Homo sapiens: one gene and its partners. The protein of the gene in region 3 purifies or fractionates together with the protein of the main gene of each other region. This does not show direct contact. Each region holds a gene or a part of one and is shown on either strand. Other genes may lie near its edges.

Region 1 (2,924 bases), on a different chromosome or scaffold from region 3:
GCTGGTGACAGGCAAGAAGAGGCAGGAAGCCTTGAGCTTCCTCCCAGGGGCTGGGCCTGCTAGAGCCAGCAGTCCACGTTTCTTCTTATAGCCCTGAGAGTTTCAGGGCATTACTCAGGAAAAGCAAGCGGGGGGTCACCAGTGTGGATGGAGGGCTAGAGCCCTTCCAAAGCCACTCAGTCTACCGCAATGGTCGGGTTTCAGGAGCCATAGGAGTCCCCCCAGTATTTAGGAAAGGGACTTTGTAAGATGGGGTTTTGAGAGATGGGGTCTCACTCTGTTACTCAGGCTGGAGTACAGTGGTGCAGTCATAGCTCACTACAGCCTCAAACTCCCGGGCTCAAGTGATCCTCCCACCTTGGCCTCCCAAAGTGCTGGGACTATAGGCATGAGCCACCACACCTGGCCAGGACTTTATAAAGATTATACAACTCTTCTCCAGGACATTTTAACACCAAAAAGAAGAAGCTTTGCAGAACTTACTATGCAGAGGACAGTCCTTTTGATTATATGTAGCTTTAGAGCAACTTTTATTTTTCCTTTTTACATGGGGCTAAAAAACTTGCATAGAGCAATTTTTTTTTTTTTTTTTTTTTTTTTTTTTTTGAGACAGAGTCTTGCTCTGTCACCCAGGCTGGAGTGCAGTGGTGCAGTCTCGGCTCACTGCAACCTCTGCCTCCCAGGTTCAAGCCATTTTCCTGCCTCAGCCTCCCGAGTAGCTGGGACTGCAGGTGCGCATCACCACGCCTGGCTAATTTTTGTATTTTGAGTAGAGATGGGGTTTCACCATGTTGGCCAGGCTGGTCTCGAACTCCTGGCCTCAAGTGATCCACCCACCTCAGCCTCCCAAAGTACAGGGATTATAGGCGTGCGCCACTGTGCCCGGCCGAGAACAATTTGTCACAAGCTTACTTTTCTAGTTTTGCCAATGCATGGTGAAAGTGAACCCAAGCCTGGGAACTGCAGGCCTAGACAATGCAGGGCCCTTGTTCACACACACCCAAGCCCCTCCAAACTCAGGCAGCCTTGGAAAGGAGAAGTGTGAGGCAGGTGTGGGTAGGACCTCTTTTTAGTACCTAGAAAAAGGCTAAGAAAGTGGCCTGGAGATGTTTAGAAGGTTAAAACCAACGAAGAAAAAAATCAATGACAACCTATCAGGAACTGATTGACTCTCAGAATGGAGAACTGGACACAGAAACTGGATCATGCTAGAAAATTCCAGGGAACCCACAGGCCTGTGCCCTGAGTGTCCGAGAACTCCGCAGTGGGCCCCTGTGGAATGCGGGCTCCCAGGGCTGCCTGGTCCCTTCCCTGCCGTGGCAGCCCCTTCCTGAGGTGCTCTGGTCTGCCCCAGGGGAACCTGCCAGCTCTAGCAGGGCCTCTGCCTCAGGGTCCCACTACCTCCTCCCCTCAGGGACAAACACAGCAGACAATTTTGTGAAGAGCTTTTTAGTAGCTAAATATGGCACCATGTGTTCCAAGGGCAATATAAATTACAGTATGCAAAACATACTGACTGGCTGAGGTAAAACGCACTGCTCCTGCCTCACGTCACCATGAGGGGAAACACACATATGCTTTTAAAAACATCTGGCTTATAAAAAAACATCCCCTAGAAAGGCCTCCAGAGAGGGGCTGTGAGGCTCACCCTCTGCCGCGCTCAGGAGGACCCGCCGGCTCAGCCCTGGCCCCTCCACTGCAGCCATGGGTGGCGCCTCCCCCTACTGCCTGCCCAGGGCTCTGTCCAGGTTGCTCTTGATGGTGTCGAGGAAGTCCGTGGTGTTCAGGAAGTGCTCGTTCAGCTTCACACTGCAGAGAGAGCACCACTCACATCAGGGGTGGCTCCAGGCCTTGCCAAGGCCATCAGCCAGGCCCTTCCAGGGAACAGCCTGAGCTTGGGCATCAGAACAGCCATCTCCTGCCACCCAGACTACAGGCCAGAGGCCAGCTATAGCCCCCTACCATGAGGCCACCGAGATTCGGCAGGCACCCGCAGGGTCTGTCTTGCCAGGTAACTGCTCTCCTGAGAGAAGCTGGGAAAGGGGTGTGGGCAGGGTCGGAAGGAGCTCTGAGTAGCCAGCCTCAGGGATGGGGAGGAACTCACTAGACCTGGTCTACAGAGGCTGGCCTGAGCAGTCTCTCAGGGCTGTGGACATGTCCTGCCCCAGGCCCCCTTGCAGCTAAGCTGACTCATGAGGGGGACTTTAGGAGGGGTCCCCTGGCTTCCTCCCACATGGCCCCAGGGTCTGCCTACCACCCCAGGCCACGCACTTGCTGAGGCCGTGAATGCAGCCCGCCAGGTCCTTGGTCATGGCTCCACTCTCCACCGTCTCCACGCACACCTTCTCCAGCATCTGGGCAAACCTATGGGGATGGGGCAGAATGAGACCCCATCTGTGCAAGGGCAGGACCCAGAGCCTGTCCTGGGCAGCTCCGGCCTCTCCCTCCATGCTCACCTGATGAGGTCTTGGTTCCCATCCAGCTTCCCCCGGTGCTCCAGGCCACGTGTCCAGGCAAAGATGCTGGCGATGGGGTTGGTGCTGGTGGGCCGGCCCTGGGGACGGGGGTTGCAGGGAGATCAAGAGCCGAGCCAGCTAGTGAGGAGGCTGCCCAGATACAGCTGCCCGCCCCTGGGCTGGTGGGTCAGGCTCGTCCTTCCAGCCCTCAGCCCAGTGGGCTTTAGGCCCCTGGGGTAGAGGGGCATTGTGAGGCCCCATGCCCTGCACTCACCTTCTGGTGCTCCCGATAGTGGCGGGTGACGGTCCCATGAGCGGCCTCAGCCTCAATCGTCTTCCCATCAGGGCAGACCAGGACGGACGTCATCAGGCCAAGGGAGCCAAAGCCTGGAGGGTAGAAAGCCTTTCTCTCAGGGCCTCGCCTCTCCTGGGGCCACCCAGCTGAGCCCTGCTGCCCTCTACAACCCA
Region 2 (3,977 bases), on a different chromosome or scaffold from region 3:
GATGAAGAGATGCTGCAGGGTGTGTCAGCGATTTCTTCTCTTCTCAGGCTGCATCTGGGGCTGGGGATAGGAAGAGGAGGTGGCACAGAATTTCAGGGAGGGAGGGACAGAGTACAGAGCAGCAGATGGAGCACAGAGAAAACAGGGAAAGAGGACAGTGGCAGGGAAAAGAGAGCTGTCCCTGGCATGAGGGGTCACAAGACACCTGTCAGATGAGGACTGAAATGTGTCCATCCAATATTTTTGTGCTTTCGTTGCTGTGAGTCACTAAGTACATAACCTTGGGCAAAGCACTAAAAGTAAGCTTTACCGTCTTTAAAAGGGGGAAGTGTTGTTGAATGTGCCTGGGACAATGTCTGGCATATAATAAATGTTCAGGCTGGACTCACGCCTGTAATCCTAGCACTTTGGGAAGCCGAGGCGGGTGGATTGCCTGAGCTCAGGAGTTCAAGACCAGCCTGGGCAACACGGTGAAACCCTGTCTCTACTAAAATACAAAAAAATTAGCCGGGCATGGCCACGTACACCTGTAATCCCAGCTACTTGGGAGGCTGAGGCAGGAGAAACACTTGAACCCACGGGGTGGAGGTTGCAGTGAGCAGAGACTGTGCCATTGCACTCCAGCCTGAGCGACAGAGTGAGACTCCATCTTAAAAAAAAGAAGTTCAACACATGTGGGCTGTTTACTCTTGGTTCAGGGAAACCATTGCAGAGGAAAAAAAATATTGTGCTAAATTATCAGGTGGTGCTGTTCAATATAGTAGCCGCTAAGCCACCTGCAGTAATTTACACTTAAGTTAACTGAAATGTAGTAAAATTAACATTTTAGTTTCTCATTTGCACAAGCCACTGTTTAAGTTGCTCAGTAGCCACACATGGCTAATGGCTACCGTACTGGAGAGTGCAGGTCTAGGATCTTCCCAGCATCACAGGAAGTTCTGCTGGACTTTGCTGCTCTAGGGCATTATTAGCAGGGCTTGCATCAGGAAGTGCTGCTGAGGAGGTATTCCGGACAGTGAGTGGGTGGTTGATGAGCTTCCATTGCTACTGGACGTCTCCTGTTGGTTTCTGCCATAGACTCCCTTGCTGACTGCTTTTTCACCTCTGCACCCACTTCACTGGGGGCTCGTCTATCTCCTTGCATGTTTTTAGTGCTGGACCTGCTCAGCTGGGAGGCTTATTTCAAGAGCAACCTGGGTTTCTTGGCTAGGATGTGTTGACCTTTTTAGCAGAAATTAGCAGTGGTTGGAGGAAGAACGGAGTCTCCCAAAATGGCATCTAGGAGCAGAGATGCAGACACCATGGGCTTGTGACCTCATTGTTTCCTTTTCCCTACTCCACAGGTGGATAGAGGTGTTCATCCCCAGATTTTCCATTTCTGCCTCCTACAATCTGGAAACCATCCTCCCGAAGATGGGCATCCAAAATGTCTTTGACAAAAATGCTGATTTTTCTGGAATTGCAAAGAGAGACTCCCTGCAGGTTTCTAAAGTGAGTTGAATGAAAATATTTGCAAAAAAGTCCAAGCTGGAAGCACCTGCAGAATTAATCACATGCTCTTATTTCGTTGATAAGGAAACAGAGGCCTGAAAGGTGAAGTCAGGGTCTTCTGCGGCCAGAAGAACCGAATCTTGCGGCCTATGGCCACCATCCCTCTGGCATGCAGCATCTGTTATCCCTCTTCACACAAATGTTCCGAAGCCATCCTCAGCAGTCAGGTGCTCCCCCATGCCTGCTGCAGGAGAGCAAGTGCTCCCTCAGGATCTGACCTCACTTTCTTCCTCCCTGAAGTTTAGGCCCTCACACAGGCATCACAGTGTGGCTGCCCATAGGTCATCTGCACCCTGTAGATGTGTTGTCTGGCCTTCAGTGTGTAAGGAGAGAGAGAGAGAGAGAGAGAGAGAGAGAGAGAGAGAGAGAGAGAGAGGAGTTTTAAAGCATAGTATATTAGATCTAAAAGTCTAGATTTCTGATCCTCTTGAAATAAATCACTAACTCTAATTCCCACATGGCAACAGTGAGCCTATGTGTCCACATGGCAGCCATCACAGGAGCTGAGCTATGAGTGCCCCTTTTAACCAGACAGTATCCTCCAGGTAATGTGGGCACCCCATGCTCTTACAAGAAGTCTCCGTCAGTTAATTGGGGTTACCTGCCTAGCCCCTGCACACATATGGGTTACTGATCCCTGACCTAAAATTTTATTTTGATAGTGGATTATAATAGAAGTGATCCTGGGGCCACTGAAGGGGACCTTTGTCATTGGTTTTCAGAAAATGTTGAGAGGCCCCACTGGAATATGATGAACATAATGGACATTTTCTCGAGGAAAGTGTATCTGTGAGCCTATGAAAAATAATGCCTGTAGTCACAGGAGCTCAAGCCTCCCTGAAGCTTAGAAATCCAGGAACTCCAGGTTAAGAATCTCTTCCCTAGAAGACAAAGAAGGGATCTAACCTTAGTCATATCAAACCCATGTCTGCCATGCAAGAACTGCAGCAATTACTACTGCTGGCAAGTCCACAAGCACTTGCTTTGTATGATCTCTCTTAATTTACACAATAACCTTACGGGGCATATGCAGTTATTATTACCTTTTATAGATCGGGAACCTGAAGCACGCAGCATCTTAATAATTTTGCAACCATAAGTGGCAGAACTGAGACTCACTCCGGTCTTCCTGCTCTGTGTTTGTAACCATCTCAATCCCGGTGTAAGGACCAATGGGCCATAGTCAACACCCACTGCAATGTATTGAGTAAACCCAATGCCAGGCATTTGAACCTTGAATCCTTTCAAGGTAGACATCACCATTCCAGGGCAAAAGCACTCAGTTTAGTTTACTCAGTTAAGTAAAAGTGTCTCCACTAGGGCCACTGATGTTTGTTTTTCCCTTGGCAGGCAACCCACAAGGCTGTGCTGGATGTCAGTGAAGAGGGCACTGAGGCCACAGCAGCTACCACCACCAAGTTCATAGTCCGATCGAAGGATGGCCCCTCTTACTTCACTGTCTCCTTCAATAGGACCTTCCTGATGATGATTACAAATAAAGCCACAGACGGTATTCTCTTTCTAGGGAAAGTGGAAAATCCCACTAAATCCTAGGTGGGAAATGGCCTGTTAACTGATGGCACATTGCTAATGCACAAGAAATAACAAACCACATCCCTCTTTCTGTTCTGAGGGTGCATTTGACCCCAGTGGAGCTGGATTCGCTGGCAGGGATGCCACTTCCAAGGCTCAATCACCAAACCATCAACAGGGACCCCAGTCACAAGCCAACACCCATTAACCCCAGTCAGTGCCCTTTTCCACAAATTCTCCCAGGTAACTAGCTTCATGGGATGTTGCTGGGTTACCATATTTCCATTCCTTGGGGCTCCCAGGAATGGAAATACGCCAACCCAGGTTAGGCACCTCTATTGCAGAATTACAATAACACATTCAATAAAACTAAAATATGAATTCATCTGTCAACAGAGTCCTAATCTGAAAATGATTTACTAGCGAACTCGCGATGGCTGGGCTGTCATCCCATGACATCTCAGAGGCTGCATGATTTTTTTCCTTCATTTATTCAGCAAAAATTTATTGAACACTTAACATATGTTAGGAGTAAATCAGACAGACAAGATTCCTGGCCTGTTAGGCCTAAATGGGGGAGACAGACCCCCCTACAGCAACAATGAAACCAGACCTATAAACATGATCGTAAGAGCTTATGATAAGTGCCATGAAGGCATTGAACAGGATGACTGAGAGTGAGGATAGGACAAGGGAGGGGTGTGAGCATGAAGGCTGTGAGTCAGGAATGAGTGGCATGTTGGAGAGACAGAGCAGGGACCTTGTGGCATCATGTGTGGCAGATGGAAGAAATGAGAACACAGAGGCTCAAAGAGGTCGGCTGGTGGAGGCCATTGTTAGCCAAGGAGAGAGTCTGGGTTTGTGGGGAGCGCCGGGACACCGGCTGACGAGGG
Region 3 (3,500 bases):
GCCCTATTCCACGTGCCAGGGTAGGAGGGAGGATAGGACGGGTAGTACCACGAGTCTGAGAAGGGTGTTGCCGCTCTTTAAAGGGATAAAAGTAGGTTAGGCATTTTTTTCTTGTGGCTATAATTTTTAAATACCTTCCTGTTCCTAAACTGTCAGAAAAAAATATCTTTATCAAGTATTTTTTCCTGAATGTTCTGGTATATCAGAGTTAACATGAAATAAAAACCGTTTCATATTTCTGCCATTATTATGGTCACTGCTATGGGGGAAAAGTGACAGGGAGTCAATGCTCTTTCTGAATTTGCACTCGAATAAAATCTAAACTTAAACTACCATTAATACTTCATATTCCAAAATCTGGCCCCAAGCTCTTTCCAGCCTTATTTTTATCATTCTCCTACCAAACCAGACTGTTCCCCAAATGCTGTCTTCTTTCCTGCCTTCTTATTTTCTCAGATGTCAACTAAACAGTCTTTTTCTTATCTCATAATATATATGAAGGTGACACAGGAAGAAACACAGTGAAAGAAAATAACATACACAATACTGATCAAAACAAATATAGTGTACCTTCCCCCTTCCCAGAGAATCTTATTTAATAGGCTAACGTCACCACAATTTATTTTCCTTAGCAAAACTAAATGCAGTTAAATTGTAAGCAAAACAAGCCTCTTGAATTAAAGAGCAAGTGAGATCAATGCAAAAAGCTTACCTATTGCTGCCAAACAAATATCCTAGTATTCCACCAGTTCCCAAGCCTGTCCAGAACCCTGGTCCTGAATTTTCATATCCTTGTTGTCCTGTAAAAGCACTGCCAAAACCAGAAGTTGCACCATGGCCAGTATTCTGTGGTCCTTAAAATAAAAATGATTTATTATGTATCCTCACTTAAACATGACAGTCTACAAAAGCAAAGATAATGTAACATTTCAATTATTTCATCTGTACTGAATTATTAATAATACTCAGGCATCAAGTTATTAACAAGTTGTATTCAAAAAGGTATTTGTAAAATACTGGTTTATAATGAGGGAGAGCATTTCCCATAGATATGGGAGGAGAGGGATAGATTTTGGGACTGGGGAGGGTCTTGCTATAAAATGACATCTGCCCTGCTCAATCAGCTACTAGAAAATCACCCCACTTTTCAGGGTTACTTTCTCTCTGCAGTACAAACTCTAAGTGGAGTCTCTAAGAGCTCCAGATGAGAGCTGTGCCTCAGTCTCTAACCGAGGAATCCAAGGGGAGGCAGCCAGATATTTATTTGTGTCAGTTGGGAAGTCAGATCTCAAAGGGACCTAAAAAGTATCTTCTGCTCAGAGGAAGTTTTAACTGATGTATACATATATATAAGAAAGTGTGCTAATCTTACACGTGTGGCACAACAAATTTGTACATATGTACCTATCCATGTAACCACCACCCACACCAATAAACCATTTCTGGCACCCCAGAAGGCTCCCTCATGACAACTCCTAATAGATTCCCATCTATGTCAGAGATCAGCACTACTTTAACTTCTCTTACCATATTTTAATTCTGTCCATTCATGAACTTTTTCTAAACAGGATCACAAAGTATGTATTCTGTGTCCGGCACATCATTATGTCTATGGGAGTCAATCCTACCATTGCATTATCAGTTTTTTTCTTAACTCATGTGTCTTCCACCGTGTGAAAAATTTACACAGTCCCATTCTAATGTTTATGGATATTCCACCTCCATTTTTTGGCAGTTATAAATAAAACTGCTATGAACATTCCTGTGCATCTTTCTTGGTGCACCATGCATTCACTTCTCCCAGGTATGTACATAGGAATAGAATTGGGTATGCATGTTTGGGTTGTTTTACCATTTAAACTCCTACCGGCAAAGTATGAAAGTTCCAGTCACTCTACATTCTTGCCCATACTTGGTACTCTGTCTTTTTAATGTTAGCCATTATGGTGGTTATCTGGTGGCTAAAAATAATCTCCCTGTGGTTTTCATCTGCATTTCTCAGGAGACTAATGATGCTAAGCACCTTTTCTTATTTCTGTTGAACATGTAAATCATGGGTTGGGACCCCAGTACTGCTCCACGGCCTGTTAGGAACTGAGCCACACAGCAGGAGGTGAACAGCAAGCAAGCGACTGAAGCTTCATCTCTATTTAAAGCCACTCCCCCATCACTTGCATTACTACCTGAGCTCAGCCTCCTGTCAGATCAGCAGCAGCATTAGATTCTCATAGGAGCACAAACCCTACTGTGAACTGCACATGCGAGGGATCTAGGTTGCATGCTCCTTATGAGAATCTAATGCCTGATGATCTGTCACTGTGTCCCATCACCCCCAGATGGGACCATCCAGTTGCAGGAAAACAAGCTCAGGGCTCCCACTGATTCTACATTACATGAGTTGTTAATTATTTCATTATATATTACAATGTAATAACAACATAAATAAAGTACACAATAAATGTAATATGCTTTAATCATCCCAAAACCTTCTCTCCCCACCCCACCCCACCCCAACCCCCCTAGTCCGTGGAAAAATTGTCTTCCACAAAGCTGGTCCCTGGTGCCAAAAAGGCTGGGGACTGGTGAAGTAGATGTCTTCTCTTATTATAAAATGGGCATTCAAGTCCTCTTTGGAGGGCCTGTCTGCCTGTTGCTCAGATTTACAGGAGTTCATTTTATGTTCTACCGGAAATACATTTTATATATATATATGCCGGAAATACGTTTCGTAAATTTTTCCCAGTCTGTAGCTTGCCTTTTCACTCTCCTAATAGTGCCTTTTGATGATTAGATGTTCTTAATTTAAATAAAGTCTAATTTACCCATGTTTTCTTTTATGGCTAGTACTTTTTATGTTCTGTTTAAGAAATCTTTCCCTATCCTAAGGTCATAACAAATATTCTCCTATGTTTTATTCTGGAAACTTAATTGTTTTACCTTTTACGTTGAGATTTATAATACTTAAAGAATTAATTTTTATGTATAGTGTGAGACAGGAGTCAGGGCAAATGATTATTAGCAAAGTTGATCAAGTTTCTCTGATTAAGAGTATTTATAATTTAATCAGGCATTTTTTTTTTTTTTTTTTTTTTGGAGACAGGGTCTCGCTCTGTCACTCAGGCTGGAGTGCAGTGGCGCAATCTCGGCTCACCGCAACCTCCACCTCCCGGGTTCAAGTGATTCTCATGCCTCAGTCTCCCAAGCAGCTGGAATCACAGGTGCCCGCCACAACACCCGGCTAATTTTTGTATTTTTAGTAAGAACGGCGTTTTACCATCTTGGCCAGGCTGGTCTCAAACTCCCAACCTCAAGTGATCTGCCCACCCCGGCCTCCCAAAGTGCTGGGATTACAGGCGTGAGCCACCGCGCCCGGCCAATCAGGCATTAACATAGCAACCACAATATACCTTGGGAGAGAGCCAAACAGAAGAGGTAAAAGAAGTTGAAAGTAAAAAACAAAATGAGAAGACAAACCTCCTTTGGTTTCCCAATGCAACGAT
Region 4 (3,500 bases), on a different chromosome or scaffold from region 3:
GGCCTCAGGAAACTTACAATCATGGCAGAAGGGGAAGCAAACACATCCTTCTTTACATAGCGGCAGCAAGGAGAAGTCAGAGTGAAGAGAGGGAAAGCCTCTTATGAAACCATCAGTCTCATGAAAACTCATGAAGGCAACCAACCCCCTGATTCAATTACCTCCCAGTGGGTCCCTCCCACGACACATGGGGATTATGGGAATTCAGTTCAAGATGAGATTTAGGCGGGGACACAGCCAAATCATATCACACTGGTAGGAATATGGTGTAGGTTTTATATTAGATAGTTGATCTTAAATTTGTTTCTTTCTCTCTCGTTTCTTTTTTTCCCCACAGAAGATAGAATTATATTTCCTGAAATAATCTATACAAAGGTTTGTAGAAAGACAGAAAACGTTTACAACCACATTCTCTCACTCAGCTCCTAATTTTTCTCTCTTGTTAAACCAGGCAACTTCAAAACTAATCCTTAAGAAGCCCCTCCCTCAGCCTGCTCTGCCTTCCAGTGATTGTTATTTTTGCTATTACCAAGAACATGCAAGAGGAAAACAAATGCACCTTGCAGGAGAATTATTTGAAGCTTACAAACTATTTTCACTTGAAGGGTTATGAAATTTTACTAACGTTCTCTAGTGAGGCAAAAATTACACAGGTCTTGATAACAGAAACACGAGCAACAATTAAACTCAGATTTTAACATATATAATTTTAGCATCTCATAAAGCTAGTCTCAACTTCTGCTTTTTTACTTCATATCTCAACAATACTATAAGGGACTGCAGAATCATGATTGCAAGGAAAATGCACAGTTTCCACCTCTCCAATAGGACTAAGCACTTCTCATACTCCAGTCAAGCAAAAAAATCACTTTGTACCCTGACATGAAGCAAAAATAACATGATCATCCTGCCTGAAAGTTGGTCTCCAAAATAAAACTTCAAACACATCTCATTCCCTTAAAGAAATAATTTTTTCCCTTGATTGTTTGCTATGCTGATGTCTGAAAACAAGTCACGACTTTTAGGAATAGATAATTGTGTAAGAAAGTTGTTTTTAGTCATGAACAACAGACTAATGTAAATGGAGAACTTTGGTAATTTGGTGGAATATTTTCTTTCAAGTATTTATTGTGATTTTATTTGATGAGCCAGTCTTATAAAGCCTGACTCCCTTGCACTCTGGGGAAGTAAACATTTTCTTTCCTTTTCTAACTGCTTCTGCCTCTAAGTCTTCCTTTGTCAAAAGTAAATGTAACAATAAACACAGATTGCTACTCTACTTAATTTTAACCCAAGCATATGTTACCTACTCTGAGCTAGCACAACTTGTGGGGCCTGCTCAAATGTCAACTGTATTTTGGTTTTCTATTGCGCCTCAAAATACACTCAAGGGATTCATCTTCCCTGCCCTCAAACAAATACTTGAGTAGATCCCATGATGTTTCTGCTCATGCAACAACTTCAAAGTCCCAAAAGAGGCCAGTCACAGTGGCTCACAATTGTAATCCTAGCACTTTGGGATGTGGAGGCAGGAGGATCACTTGAGCCCAGGAATGCAAGACCAGCCTGGGCAACATAGCAAAACCACGTCTCTACAAAAAAAGTTTTTTTAATTAGCTGGGCATGGTGTTCTGTGCCTGTAGTCCCAGCTACTTGAGAGACTGAGATGGGAGGATCACTTAAGCCCAAGAGGTTGAGGCTGCAGTGAGCTGTGATCATGCCACTGCACTCCAGCCTGGGCAACAGACAGAGTGAGACTTTGTCTCAAATGAATAAATAAATAAATAAGAAATATAAAAACCTAAAAGAATTAAAATGTCTAATCTTTGGAAACAAAAGAAACTCTGACCCATTATAACACAAATCTGCCCTATTTCTGCAATGTCCTGCTGCATGCTGGTCTCCTGCTGGGGTTGGGGGAAGGTAAACTTCTTTTCTATTTCTCCACCATCCACTCAACTGCTAGCTAGTTTCACATCACTCCAAGACCAAAGCAGGAGGAAAGGACTGAATTAACTATCTTCATACCTCACATGGGTGTGTTAGTAATACTCACCTTCCTTCAGCTGGCTGCTCATTCCTACTTCTGCTGCCAGGGGCCCTCGCCCTTAGGCCAGCCCTTCCTCCCATGTGGCCCCACCTGGCTCCCAGATCATCTTCAGACATCCTTTGCCCAACAAACTCTGGGAAGGTGAGTGATCCAGCCACCTAGGCCCCTGTGTGAGCCCCAAATGCAAGAAGCACATGGACAGCTCAACTCACCCTCAAATGGCCCCACTGAGAGGTGACAACATGCTAGCAGCCCTCGCTCACTCTCAGCACCTCCTCAGCAGTGTCTGCTCCGGCCATGCTTGAGGAGTCCTTCAGCACACCGCTGCACTGTGGGAGCCCCTCTCTGGGCTGGCCGAGGCTGGAGCTGGCTCCCTCTGCTTGCGGGGAGGTGTGGAGGGAGAGAGAGGGGCAGGAACCCGGGCTGGCCAGCGTGAGTTCTAGGTGGGCGCAGACTCAGTGGGCCCCACCAGCCCTGGGCAGTGAGGGGCTTAGCACCCAGGCCAGCAGCTGCAGAGGGGGCGCCAGGTCCCCCAGCACTGCCAGCCTGCCTGCGCCGCACTCAAATTCTCACCGGGCCTCAGCCGCCTCCCTGTGGGGCAGAGCTCAGGACCTGCAGCCCGCCATGCCAGAGCCCAGCCCCCCACCCCGTGGTGGGCTCCCGCACTGCCCGAGCCTCCCCAACGGGCGCCGCCCCCTGCTCCATGGCGCCTGGTCCCATCAACCGCCCAAGGGCTGAGGAGTGCAGGCTTGTGGCATGGGACTGGTGGGCAGCTCCGCCCATGGCCCTGGCGTGGGATCCACTAGGCAAAGCCAGCTGGGCTCCTGAATCAGGTGGGGACTTGGAGAACTTTTATGTCTAGTTGGAGGATTGTATATGCACCAATCAGCACTCTGTGTCTAGCTCGGGGTTCGTGGATGCACCAATCAGCACTCTGTATCTAGCTAATCTGGTGGGGACTTGGAGAACTTTTATGTCTAGCTAAAGGATTGTAAACACACCAGTCAGCACTCTGTGTCTAGCTCAAGGTTTGTAATCACACCAATCAACACTCTGTGTCTAGCTCAAGGTTTGTAAACGCAACAATCAGTGCTCTGTGTCTAGCTAATCTAGTGGGGACTTAGAGAACTTTTATGTCTAGCTGGAGGATTGTAAATACACCAATCAGCACTCTTTGTCTAGCTCGGGGTTCTTGGATGCACCAATCAGCCCTCTGTGTCTAGCTCAAGGTTTGTAAATGCACCAATCAGCACCCTGTGTCTAGCTCAAAGTTTGTAAATGCACCAATCAGTGCTCTGTGTCTAGTTAATCTAGTGGGGACTTGGAGAACTTTTTTGTCTAGCTGGAGGATTGTAAATACACCAATCAGCACTCTGTGTCTAGCTCAGGGATTGTAAATGCACTAATCAGCACCCTGTCAAAACGGACCAATCAGCTCTCTGTGAAACAG
Region 5 (3,626 bases), on a different chromosome or scaffold from region 3:
TGACATCAGGTGATCTGCCTGCCTCAACCTCCCAAAGTGCTGGGATTACAGGTGTGAGCCACTGTGCTGGGCCCACTTATCTAACTTCTTTGCCTCAGTTTTCCCATCTGTGAGAGGGGATAATCATAGTTTCCACCTCACAGGACTACATGGGGGTTGAAGGACTTATTATATATAAAATGCTTAGAAGAGTGCGGAACTTGGTAAATTCTGTAGGTATTTACCATTGTGAGGCAGGGGAAGATAAAGATGGGGGGTGGGACACAGGTAGGGGAAAACAATAAGATGAGTATGTGGTACAGGTGGCTTAAGGTTAGGTGGATCCAAATAATAATGGCTCACCTTTCTTTATTTTTGCCATTGTAGTTTTAAAATAATGACAATATTTATGATTTATTGAGCACCTACTGCATACCAGGCACTGCCTAGATGCTCTGCATTTAGTAGCACTTTATTTATTTATTTGTTTTTGAGACAGAGTTTCACCCTGTCGCCCAGGCTAGAGTGCAGTGGTGCAATCTAAGCTCACTGCAACCTCCACCTCCCAGGTTCAAGCAATTCTCCTGCCTCAGCCTCCCGAGTAGCTGGGATTACAGGCACATGCCACCACACCCGGCTAATTTTTTGTATTTTTAGTAGAGATGGGGTTTCACCATGTTAGCCAGGCTGGTCTTGAACTCCTGACCTCAGGTGATCCACCCACCTGGGCCTCCCAAAGTGCTGGGATTACAGGCATGAGCCACCGCATGCGGCCCCAGTAGCACTTTATACACCAAAACAATCCCACAGGAGTGGATTTCCTCTCCATTTTATAGGTGAGGGAACTGAGGCTCAGAGAGGGGAAGTAATTTTCCCAGGGTCACACAGTTGGAGGACGGCCAAGCTGGGATCTGATAGCTACCATTTATCGAGTGGCACATGCACCGGGCGCAGACTTTTGTGTGCATGATCTCACTCTGTTCTCATGATGACTCTGGGCATCTATTACTTTGTGCATTGCATAGAACATGGAAGTTTTGCTCAGAGAGTCCAGCAACATGCTTAAGGCCACCTAGAGGGTGGATGCGCTGGCCAGGTGCAGCAGCTCATGCCTTTGGGAGGCTGAGGCAGGCGGATCACTTGAGGTCAGGAGTTCGAGACCAGCCTGGCCAACATGGTGAAACCTTGTCTCTAGTAAAAATACAAAAATTAGCCAGGCATGGTGGTGCATGCCTGTAATCCCAGCTACTTGGGAGGCTGGGGCAGGAGAATGGCTTGAACCTGGGAAGCGGAGGTTGCCACTGCACTCCAGCCTGGGTGACAGAGCAAGACTCTGTCTAAAAAAAAAAAAAAAAAAAAAAAAGGAGAGAGAGAGAAAGAGTGGATGTGCTGGAATATAAAGCAAGGTCTGTCTGACTCCAGAGTTTGTGCTCTAATAATAGCCTACACTTACATAGCCCTTTCCATATGCTGGGCTCTGTTTACAAATACTATCTCATTTAACTCCCACAACATCTATGATGTGGGTACTGTTACTCTTCCTATCACTTTTCAGATGAGGAAAACTGAGGCCCAGAGAGGCCTAGCCACTTGCTCAGGGTTGTACAGCCCATCAGAGGGCAGAGAGGGGACTGGAACCCAGGCCATGTGGCCCCAGAGTTCAGGCTTTCAGCTCTAACTACTGTCCCTGTTTTTGTCCCTCACAGGATGGGAAGATCGTAGATGATGTCTGGGTGGTGAGACCCCTGTTTGGCCGGAGGATGTACCTCTAGGGATGGCGGCAGCTCTCCTCCAGAAGCCTAGGTTTTGCCGCCTTGGCTGCTGTGACCAGAAACTGCCCAGGCCTGGGTGGGGAGTTGGGTGGGCCCTGACTCCCCTGCCCTCCAGAGGCCCCATGTAGGGTACATGCAGCCCTATGGAGCTGGGGCAGCTGTTCCCTCCTGGAGAGGTGGGAGTCCTGGCTGGCTGTGGAGGGAGGGCAGGTGTGCGGGCACAGAGTGACACACGGCAGGTTTCTGCTGGCAGGGCCCCACCCTCCTGCATAGCTCTGATCGGGCGAGGTGCCCACGGGGCTTCAGGAATGAAGAGGCTTAAGCTCTGGCTCCATGGATTCTGCACATCTGCGGGGGATGCCGCTGGGCTTCCTCCTCTCCTGCCCACCTGGCAAGGGCATCGCCAGGTGGGCACAACCGTCATGACACTACTCACCAGCAGGTGGCGTCAGGGGCTTTTTCTTCTGAGCCCGGCACTGAGAGTTGGTCTGAAGCCTGGCTCCTTCTTCACTGCTCCAGGACTGCTATGAAGAGTCCCTTCATGCCTCAGTTTCCCAGCCTGGCACCATCTTATTCGGGAAGAGGAGACGTGTTAACACTCTTGCCTCCTAGCTAGGACAGATGACAAACCGCAAGAGCCACAGACTTGCCAGTTCCTTCCCTCTTTCCTTCCTTTCTTTCCCTTCTTTTATTTATTGAATCATAATTTATTGAGCATCTACCATGTGCCAGGCTCTGTTCTCAGTGCTGGAGAGACAGCTGTGAATGAGACAGAGATCTCGGCCCTCACAGAGCTGACATCCTAACCAGAGAGTTGGACAAAAATCACGATAAATGAGTTGGTTAAATAGCGATTTGTGAGTAGAAAACGCAGGGACGGTGAGAGAGCAGTTTCAATTTTCAGGGGGATCTCACTGAGAGGGCAACATTTGATCTGAAGGAGGTGGGGAAGGAGCCAAGTGGGCAGACATCTGGGGGAAGAGCATTCCAGGCAGAGGAACAGCCAGTGCAAAGGCCCTGAGACAGAAATGTGCCTGGCCGGCTGGGTACAGTAACTCACATCTGTAGTCCCAGCACTTTGGGAGGCCGAGGCGGGCAGATCACTTGAGCCCAGGAGTTTGAGACCAGCCTGGGCAACACAGCGAAACCCTTTCTCTACCAAAAATATGAAATTTAGCTGGGCATGGTGGTGTGTGCCTGTAGTCCCAGCTGCTCAGGAGGCTGAGGCGGGAGGATGGCTTGAGCCCAGGAGGTTGAGGCTGCAGTGAGCCATGATTGCGCCACTGCACCCCAGCCTGGGCAACAGAGCAAGACCCTGTCTCAAAAAATATATATAAATAAAAAAGTTTTAAAAAGAGAAAAATAAACAAAGAAACGTGCCTGCCCTGTTGGAGTGTCCACGAGGAGGCCACTGTGGCTGGAGCAGGGAGAGTGAGAGGGAGACCAAGCTTGAGGACAGGGCAGTGGTGGGGATGGCTTGTATGGAGCCTTACAGGCCACGGTGAGGACTTTGGGTGGAGCCAGGGGAGGCTCTGAGCAGGTGAAGGAAGTGATCGGACTCCACGAGTCACAGGCAAAGGCCCCAGGGCTGACAGCTGCCCCAGGGCCTGCGGGCTCCCAGCCCTGCCAGATGACCTGAGATCTATCTATTCCCCCGTCATGGGGCGCGGTTTCTGCCTCCACAGATTTCATTCCCTCCCACCCGCCCCTCACTTGGCCCAAGGCACGCAGGACTCCTTGCCGTTCCTGGAACACAGCCAGCTCTTTCTCACTGCGGGGCCTGGGCGCTGGCTGTCTGCCCCCTGTGTGCCCTCTCCCCAGCTCATCCCAGGCTGGCGCCTTCTCAACCTCAGGTCTCAGACTCGGTGTCCCCTC
Region 6 (3,500 bases), on a different chromosome or scaffold from region 3:
TGGATGGAATTTCCATAGGAATTATTTCTAACAATTTCTGCTGTGAAACATGGTGCTAAGAAATGACTCAGGAAGATCTGTCACCAGACATTTGAAATTAAAGCAAAGAGTTCAGAAAGATGCCTTACCTCTTACTCAAAGGAAAGATACTTACAGATATACCATCCATTGGAATCTCTGTATTTTCACAATCTAACCCAGGGCTTCGATGGATGGATGGATGGATGGATGGATGGATGGATGGATGGATGGATGGGCGGGTGCATAGATGGATGGGTGGGTGGATGGATGGATGGATGTGGTAGTCAAATGGGTAAGTGCGTAGGTGGGAAAGTAGATGGGCAGATGATGGAGGTGATGGAAGGAATAAGTGAACAGGTAAATGGAAGACAAGACTGGATGGGACTAAACTCTTTTTCATCCTGGAGGATCTCTGAGTCTCCCTCTAATTCAATACCTATCTCCAATATCCCTCCATTCTCTACCATTCCTCCACCCAAAACACACTTATGTCCATGTTAATCATCTGAGAAATTCTGCAGGGCACAAGTTTAAAGAGCCTTCAGGCAAGCCCTGAACTGGAGGCTTGGAAATCAAGGGCTCAGGCACTTGGTTATCTGGTTTATTTCACAATCTGCAGAGCATCGTGCGGGTTTTTCTAAACCTGACGCTCTGAGCCCCATGGGCCTGTGGACTTGCAAACACCCTGAACTATCAATATGCTCAGCTGGGCCCCTGCCCTCTAAGTTGCTGTAAGTCCCAACTCCCCAGGAAGAGGGCAGACTGAGCTCAAACCATTCCTCAGAAAGGCAGAACCATGCTCAGCCTTCCAACCTCATCTGCACACTCTGAAGGTGGTGCATGCAGCTCCAGGAAGCCTTTGCTTCAGTGTTCTTTCCCCTCCTAACTTTGGGTGAGTTTGTCCCTTCCTGCTGCTGGTGGGTGATGCTGGAAGGAGCTGGGTGTGGCTGGGGCTGCTGTCTGCAGTCAGATGGCACAGACAGGGACAGGAAAGGTTTTGTGGCTTCTCCCCACAAGCTCTGGCTCTGGCTACTCCACCCTGTTGGCCAAGGGGCTGAAGGGCAGAGCACTGGCCTGCAAGGGCTGAGCAGATCTCCGTGCCCAGGGAAGGGGCTCACCCTGTCAGGGCGGGCTACCAGATGGGCTGGGAGCCTGCTCTGCCCTCCCTGTCCCTGCCTGCTTTGAGCAGGCCTGGTTCTCTTGCAGATTGAACAGGAGGGTGTCACAGTGAAGAGCAGCTCCCACTTCAACCCAGACCCTGATGCAGAGACCCTCTACAAAGCCATGAAGGGGATCGGTGAGTGGGTGTTGGCAGCCTTGCCACCTCTGCTCAAGACCCCTCCGCTCACAGCCCTGGAAAGCGGGTGCCAGGGGACATCTGGGGAGCTGGGGTGTCCCATGATACTCTGAAACTGATTCCACTACCCAGAGAATCACACAGCCCTCTGTTTCTGCAGTGAGGTCAGCACCCACCCTGCAAGACTGGACAGGAGGGTGCTGCTCTTCCCTGGGTAATGGGGGTGGGGAGGTGAGCTGTGTGTCTCTGTGAGTGACTTCCCATCAGTCTCAGCTTTCTCACTTGTAAAGTGGCCCCAAGAATTCTTGGCCTTGTGTGTCACATGAAGTGTGAAGGGGGTGGTGCTTTATGATGCCAGGCACAGAGCTGCCAGGGGTGTGAGGTGTTGGGAGTTTGTGGGGCTGATTCAAGGCCCCCTTGCCCCATGTCGATGGCCATGGAGCCGGCTCCCTTCCCATCTCCTGCACTTGCCCAGTGCTGCCCTCAGCACTACCGTGAGTGGGCGAGGGCTGGCCTGAGGCCAGATTTAAACAGCTTGCCCAGAAAGCCCTCCTGACCTGAGAGCAGAGCATGTACCCTGACCTCACCCCAGGTGGGACTGACCCCTTAGCCGGCTCTGCCTGAGGATCAGGGGCCTTAATGAGAACTGCCGCTCCTGACAAGCCCAGAAAACGTTCTCATGCCCTCTGCTTTCTGTGAAGCAGAAAGTTATCTCCACTTCCCAAATGAGAAAACGGAGGCCCAGGGAAATGAGGCTGGCTGCCCAATGCCACGCAGTTGCTGGGCCAGGCCTCGGATTCAGGGGTTGGACTCTTAGTCTTGACCTTCCCCTACTGCGACCAACACAAAGGAGGGCAGGGCCAGAGATCTCACTCGGCCAAGCTCCAAAGGCCCGGGCTGATGTCCAGAGCCACCCAGACCTCAGATTCCATCTTGTGAGGCTGGCCTTGGGCACGCCCCAACATTGTGGGGGTGTGGGGTGGGAAATGGGGAGGCAGATTTCCTAAGGGTCTTGTTTACACCACGAAAATGGTCTGGGGGTTTGGAACTATCCAGGTGTCGGGTCCCAACTGCTCAGCCACCAAGCAGCTGCCTTCGCCTTCCCCTCCTCCGCCCTCACCAGTGTGTCACCCTGGGGGCAGCAGGGTCACTTGTGCTGTAACCCTGCAGGGACCAACGAGCAGGCTATCATCGATGTGCTCACCAAGAGAAGCAACACGCAGCGGCAGCAGATCGCCAAGTCCTTCAAGGCTCAGTTCGGCAAGGCAAGGGGAAGGCTGGTGGGGGTGGGGATAGGTGAGCCTTGGGGTTGGGGGTACAGCCTGGGAGGCAGCTCCATTCTGGACGACTTTCCCCTAGAGCCAGCCCACTGGCAGCATGGGCACATGGAACATGTTTGCATGAAAACAATTGTTCTTTATTGAAATTCAAATGTAACTGGCTGCCCTGTGTTTTATCTGGCAGATCTACTTTTAGGTGTCAGAGCCCGGGCCGGGGGCTGGCCTTCCTTGCTTCCTTTCCTGCCTCCTCTCTCACAGCATTCCTTCTCATGCACCCAACAGGCCCCACTGGAGGTCTGTCTCCCTGCCCCCAGGCTATCTCGCCCTGCCCTCTGAGCCCAGACCACCTTCTCTTTTCCATGCCCCAGGCATGCAGGCCTGGCTTTGCTCTGTTCTGGGGCGTGGGCATGCTTTCCTCAGTCGAGCTGCTTGCACCCACACCTCGTCCCTTCTGCCACCTGGGAATTCTAAGAGCCTGGAGTAAGCATGCCAGGCCCTTTGTTTCTCCTCCCACCTGCACTCCACCCCTAGGACAAAGCCTGACATTTGGGGGTACACAGTAAACACAGGATTAAATATGTGCACAGCCATGGTTGCCTCAAGCCTCTAGTGACTCATATCATTAGTTTGGAGATGTAACGAAGGAAGATCAGCTCAAATATTCTCTTGGAGAACCCAGTATGCATTTTTACAGTTTCCCTCTCTTAGTCCTCACAGTGATACATTCTTTGTATTCAAACATTTGGGGAAACTGGCACTCAGAGAGGTTTTAAGTTGCCCAAGGTCCCAGAGCCTGTAATCAACAAGGTGGGGATTAAAATCCAGGTCTGACAAAGCCCTTGATCTCTCTGCTGCTCTGTAGATCAGCTGATGTAGCCTGGTGGCTCCTCGTAGCAACATGT
Region 7 (3,500 bases), on a different chromosome or scaffold from region 3:
TGCTTGCAGTGGACCAAATCGAGGCCCAGCATTTACTTTTTGTCATTATAGTAAATATATATATATATGTATACATATATTTATTTATATATGTATATATAAATATATATACATATTTTATGAGATGGAGTCAGGCTGGAGTGCAGTGGTGCTATCTCTGCTCACTGCAACCTCTGCCTTCCGGGTTCAAGTGATTATCCTACCTCAGCCTCCCGAGTAGCTGGGAATACAGGCGCCCGCCACCACACCCGGCTAATTTTTGTATTTTTAGTAGAGATGGGGGGGGTTTCAACATGTTGGCAAGTTGGTCTTGAACTCCTGACCTCAGGTTATCCACCCACCCAGGCCTTGCAAAGTGCTGGGATTACAGGCGTGAGCCACTGCGCCTGGCCTATTTATATATTATGTATTTATTTATGAGACAGGTCTCTCTCTGTTACCCAAGCTGGAGTGCAGAGGCACAATCATAAGTCACTTCATCCTCGAACTCCTGGGTTCAACGGATCCTCCCACCTCAGCCTCCTGAGTAGCTGGGGCTATAGGCAGAATCTACTACACCTGGATAATTATTTTTATATTTATTTTTATTTTTGTAGAGATGGAGTCTTACTATGTTGCCCAGGCTGGTCTTGAACTCCTGGTCTCAGGTGATCCTCCCACATTGGCCTCTCAAAGCATTGGGATTACAGGCATGAGCCACCATGCCTGGCAGTAAATGCCCTTCTACCAACTTCAGATAACTTACTATTAACATTAATAATTTGTGCTCACCATTGCTTCTGTGACACATGCTCACTGATTCCCGTCGGTACCTCATTCCTCCCATAAACTGATACTAATTGAATGGCATATTCACTAAGAATCCATTGTTTCAGTTCACAAATCTACTTTCGTGGCAATACTTCCGACTACAATTTTATGTTACAATGTTATGGTTTAATTAAGTATGTCAAAGCCAATGACATTTGTGGGCGTGAAGAATCCTTTCTAATAAAGCAAAGTTGGCTGCTTTGTAAAAACTCTAAAAAGGGGTAAGCTGCTTTAAAACGGTATCAAATTTGGCATGGGTGAGACAACTGTAAAGGACTGGGAAAAAATATCAAGATTTGTAAGACTTTTACACTCAGAATGCGTTATGAGCGTCTAAGTTCTCACTTCAGATGAAGCATATGGGGGTGGTTTGTGTAAGAAAAGCTACAAAAAAAGCAGTCAGAGATCCCTGTGCAAAAGGAAAACTCTAGCCTGATGTAAAAATCTACATTCATTCTGCAGCACTATGGTAATAGGTGTTTTATGATTCTCTCCTTTGATCAACGTGTCTGGTTATCCAACTTGTGAAGCTCTTGTGAGGGCTTCTAAAGTATGAAGATGAGAACAACAGGTTAGTTAATCTTGGCATTGCATGACCCTAGATACCCAGTCATTATTTGCATTTAACGTGGGATATCAGAAGTGTCCTTATGCGAATGCTGTGTGCGTCTATTCCTAATGAACTGCTTAGTGTGATGTAGGTAGTGCCTACGACACTTCTTCTTTGCTCCTCTATTTTGCTGTGTGGGTCTAATTCTAACACAAGGCCTTTTCGTCACTGTCCTTACGCCCGAGGCCTACCTGGTGATGATCAGCTTCTGCCCCTTCACTTCCATGCTGGCCTCTGGCTTCTCAGGGTCCTTTCCTGGTCTCTCATTGAAGATGTGTATCTTTGGTTCCTGCATGAACTGGCCTAGCAAAACAGAATCAGACATTGATTGACATGTAATCATAGTTAAATAAAAAGAGGCTCATTATTGACTCCATGCTACCTTTCGGTCCTCCCTCCAGGATTTCTAGGGTGGAAAGACAAGCTGAGAGGAAAAAGGAGTGGTGATGGGAGGGAGGGTCCTTCCTGGGAGCACATTTGTGCTGCTCACCATCTTTTTTTTATTTTTATTTTTTTAATTTGAGGCAGGATCTCCCTCTGTTGCCCAGGCTGGAGTGCAGTGGTGCTATCTCGGCTCACTGCAACCTCCACCTCCTGGGCTCAAGTGTTCTTCCCACCTCAGCCTCCCAAGTAGCTGGGACCACAGGCGTGAGCCACTACGCCTGGCTAATTTTTTGTAGAGACAGGGTTTCACCGTGTTGCACAGGTTGATCTTGAACTCCTGGACTCAAGCGATCCACCCACCTCAGCCTCCCAAAGTGCTGGGATTACAGGTGTGAGCCACTACTCACAGCCTTTTTTTTTTTTTTTTTTTTTTTTTTTTTTTTAAATTTAAGATTTGGGGCCGGGTGTGGTGGCTCACACCTGTAATCCCAGCACTTTGGGAGGCCGAGGTGGGCAGATCACCTGAGGTTGGGAGTTTGAGACCAGCCTGACCAACATGGAGAAACCCCATCTCTACTAAAAATACAAAATTAGCTGGGCGTGGTGGTGCATGCCTGTAATCCCAGCTACTCGGGAGGCTGAGGGAAGAGAATCGCATGAACCGGGGAGGCAGCGGTTGCGGTGAGCCGAGATTGCGCCACTGCGCTCCAGCCTGGGCAACAAGAGAGAAACTCCATCTCATAAATTAATGAATTAATTAATTTAAGAGATGGAGTCTCCCTCTGTCACCCAGGCTGGAGCACAGTGGCACAGTCATAGCTCACTGCAGCCTCCAATTCCGGGGCTCAAGAGATCCCACCTCAGCTTCCTGAGTAGCTGGGACTCCAGGCAGGCTCCACCATACCCTGCTAATTATTTTTATTTTCTAATTTTTTGGTAGAGATGGGGTGCCCAGGCTGCCCTTGAACTCCACAAGCAAATCCACCTGCCCAGGCCTCCTAAAGTGCTGGGATTACAGGCACGAGCCACCATGCCTGGAGCTCATGGTCATTTTATACATGAGGTTGGTCTAGTGGATTGTAAGTAAATCGAGCACCCTGATGGCAGGAGAATGAGGTGAGCACCTGAGAGTATAGCTCAGATCACAGGAAAAAGTTTTGTTTGTGATGTCACAGGCTTTATATTTGAGCCCTTCTTAAAATACTAGGGACATTTGTCCAGAGTGTTCTGCTTGTTATCACAGACCTCCTAAATGGGTTCATCTTGCTTCAGTTAGAAAAAAATCTTTAACATAAAACTTAAAATGTATCTGTCCCTTCTCTTAACTTGCCCAGTTTGTGATGCTGAAATCCTGGCCCTGGACAACCTTGTCTGGAATGGCAAAAGGTCCTGGCTGTCACATTCCCGAGCGACCCCACACTGCTATGTTAGTCCTCTGTGCTCATGAGTCCACACCTGCCATGTCCTCAACTTGTAACCACTGTCAACCAAAGCTGCTAAAGAATTAGAGCGGCCCCACCCTTGTCAGATGGTCAATAGACACTTTACCTATTAGTCCGTGGGCTTTAGGTGAGAACTTGTTTGTAGGGGGTATGTAGATTCCCAGAAAGTCAACATTGACGGGATGCTTCTTCCAAACACGATGAAGTAAAACAGAAAAGGACATCTCTTTATCCAGGGTGATAGTTACCACTTT

The links.
Region 1: the proteins of SARAF (region 3) and IDH2 purify together in Homo sapiens (affinity purification with mass spectrometry; one large-scale study listed by BioGRID and IntAct). This does not show direct contact.
Region 2: the proteins of SARAF (region 3) and SERPINA9 purify together in Homo sapiens (affinity purification with mass spectrometry; one large-scale study listed by BioGRID and IntAct). This does not show direct contact.
Region 4: the proteins of SARAF (region 3) and MRAP2 purify together in Homo sapiens (co-immunoprecipitation; one large-scale study listed by IntAct). This does not show direct contact.
Region 5: the proteins of SARAF (region 3) and ACP7 purify together in Homo sapiens (affinity purification with mass spectrometry; one large-scale study listed by BioGRID and IntAct). This does not show direct contact.
Region 6: the proteins of SARAF (region 3) and ANXA8 purify together in Homo sapiens (affinity purification with mass spectrometry; one large-scale study listed by BioGRID and IntAct). This does not show direct contact.
Region 7: the proteins of SARAF (region 3) and ITIH2 purify together in Homo sapiens (affinity purification with mass spectrometry; one large-scale study listed by BioGRID and IntAct). This does not show direct contact.

Annotation. Positions count from the first base shown.
Region 1 is NC_000015.10:90,082,545-90,085,468, forward strand, and holds the end of IDH2 (isocitrate dehydrogenase [NADP], mitochondrial isoform 1 precursor), read right to left. Parts: intron 2,844-2,924; coding exon 2,731-2,843; intron 2,555-2,730; coding exon 2,457-2,554; intron 2,365-2,456; coding exon 2,272-2,364; intron 1,810-2,271; coding exon 1,722-1,809; 3' UTR 501-1,721; downstream 1-500. UniProt on the Homo sapiens protein: Plays a role in intermediary metabolism and energy production. It may tightly associate or interact with the pyruvate dehydrogenase complex.
Region 2 is NC_000014.9:94,462,221-94,466,197, reverse strand, and holds the end of SERPINA9 (serpin A9 isoform A precursor), read left to right. Parts: intron 1-1,343; coding exon 1,344-1,491; intron 1,492-2,901; coding exon 2,902-3,105; 3' UTR 3,106-3,477; downstream 3,478-3,977. UniProt on the Homo sapiens protein: Protease inhibitor that inhibits trypsin and trypsin-like serine proteases (in vitro). Inhibits plasmin and thrombin with lower efficiency (in vitro).
Region 3 is NC_000008.11:30,066,065-30,069,564, forward strand, and holds part of SARAF (store-operated calcium entry-associated regulatory factor isoform 1 precursor), read right to left. Parts: intron 855-3,500; coding exon 713-854; intron 76-712; coding exon 1-75. UniProt on the Homo sapiens protein: Negative regulator of store-operated Ca(2+) entry (SOCE) involved in protecting cells from Ca(2+) overfilling.
Region 4 is NC_000006.12:84,036,772-84,040,271, reverse strand, and holds part of MRAP2 (melanocortin-2 receptor accessory protein 2), read right to left. Parts: intron 1-3,500. UniProt on the Homo sapiens protein: Modulator of melanocortin receptor 4 (MC4R), a receptor involved in energy homeostasis. Plays a central role in the control of energy homeostasis and body weight regulation by increasing ligand-sensitivity of MC4R and MC4R-mediated generation of cAMP.
Region 5 is NC_000019.10:39,108,368-39,111,993, forward strand, and holds the end of ACP7 (acid phosphatase type 7 isoform 1 precursor), read left to right. Parts: intron 1-1,685; coding exon 1,686-1,751; 3' UTR 1,752-3,126; downstream 3,127-3,626.
Region 6 is NC_000010.11:47,477,616-47,481,115, reverse strand, and holds part of ANXA8 (annexin A8), read left to right. Parts: intron 1-1,227; coding exon 1,228-1,318; intron 1,319-2,374; coding exon of another isoform or gene 2,375-2,488; coding exon 2,489-2,583; exon of another isoform or gene 2,584-3,500. UniProt on the Homo sapiens protein: This protein is an anticoagulant protein that acts as an indirect inhibitor of the thromboplastin-specific complex, which is involved in the blood coagulation cascade.
Region 7 is NC_000010.11:7,744,816-7,748,315, reverse strand, and holds part of ITIH2 (inter-alpha-trypsin inhibitor heavy chain H2 precursor), read right to left. Parts: coding exon 3,353-3,500; intron 1,724-3,352; coding exon 1,612-1,723; intron 1-1,611. UniProt on the Homo sapiens protein: May act as a carrier of hyaluronan in serum or as a binding protein between hyaluronan and other matrix protein, including those on cell surfaces in tissues to regulate the localization, synthesis and degradation of hyaluronan which are essential to cells undergoing biological processes.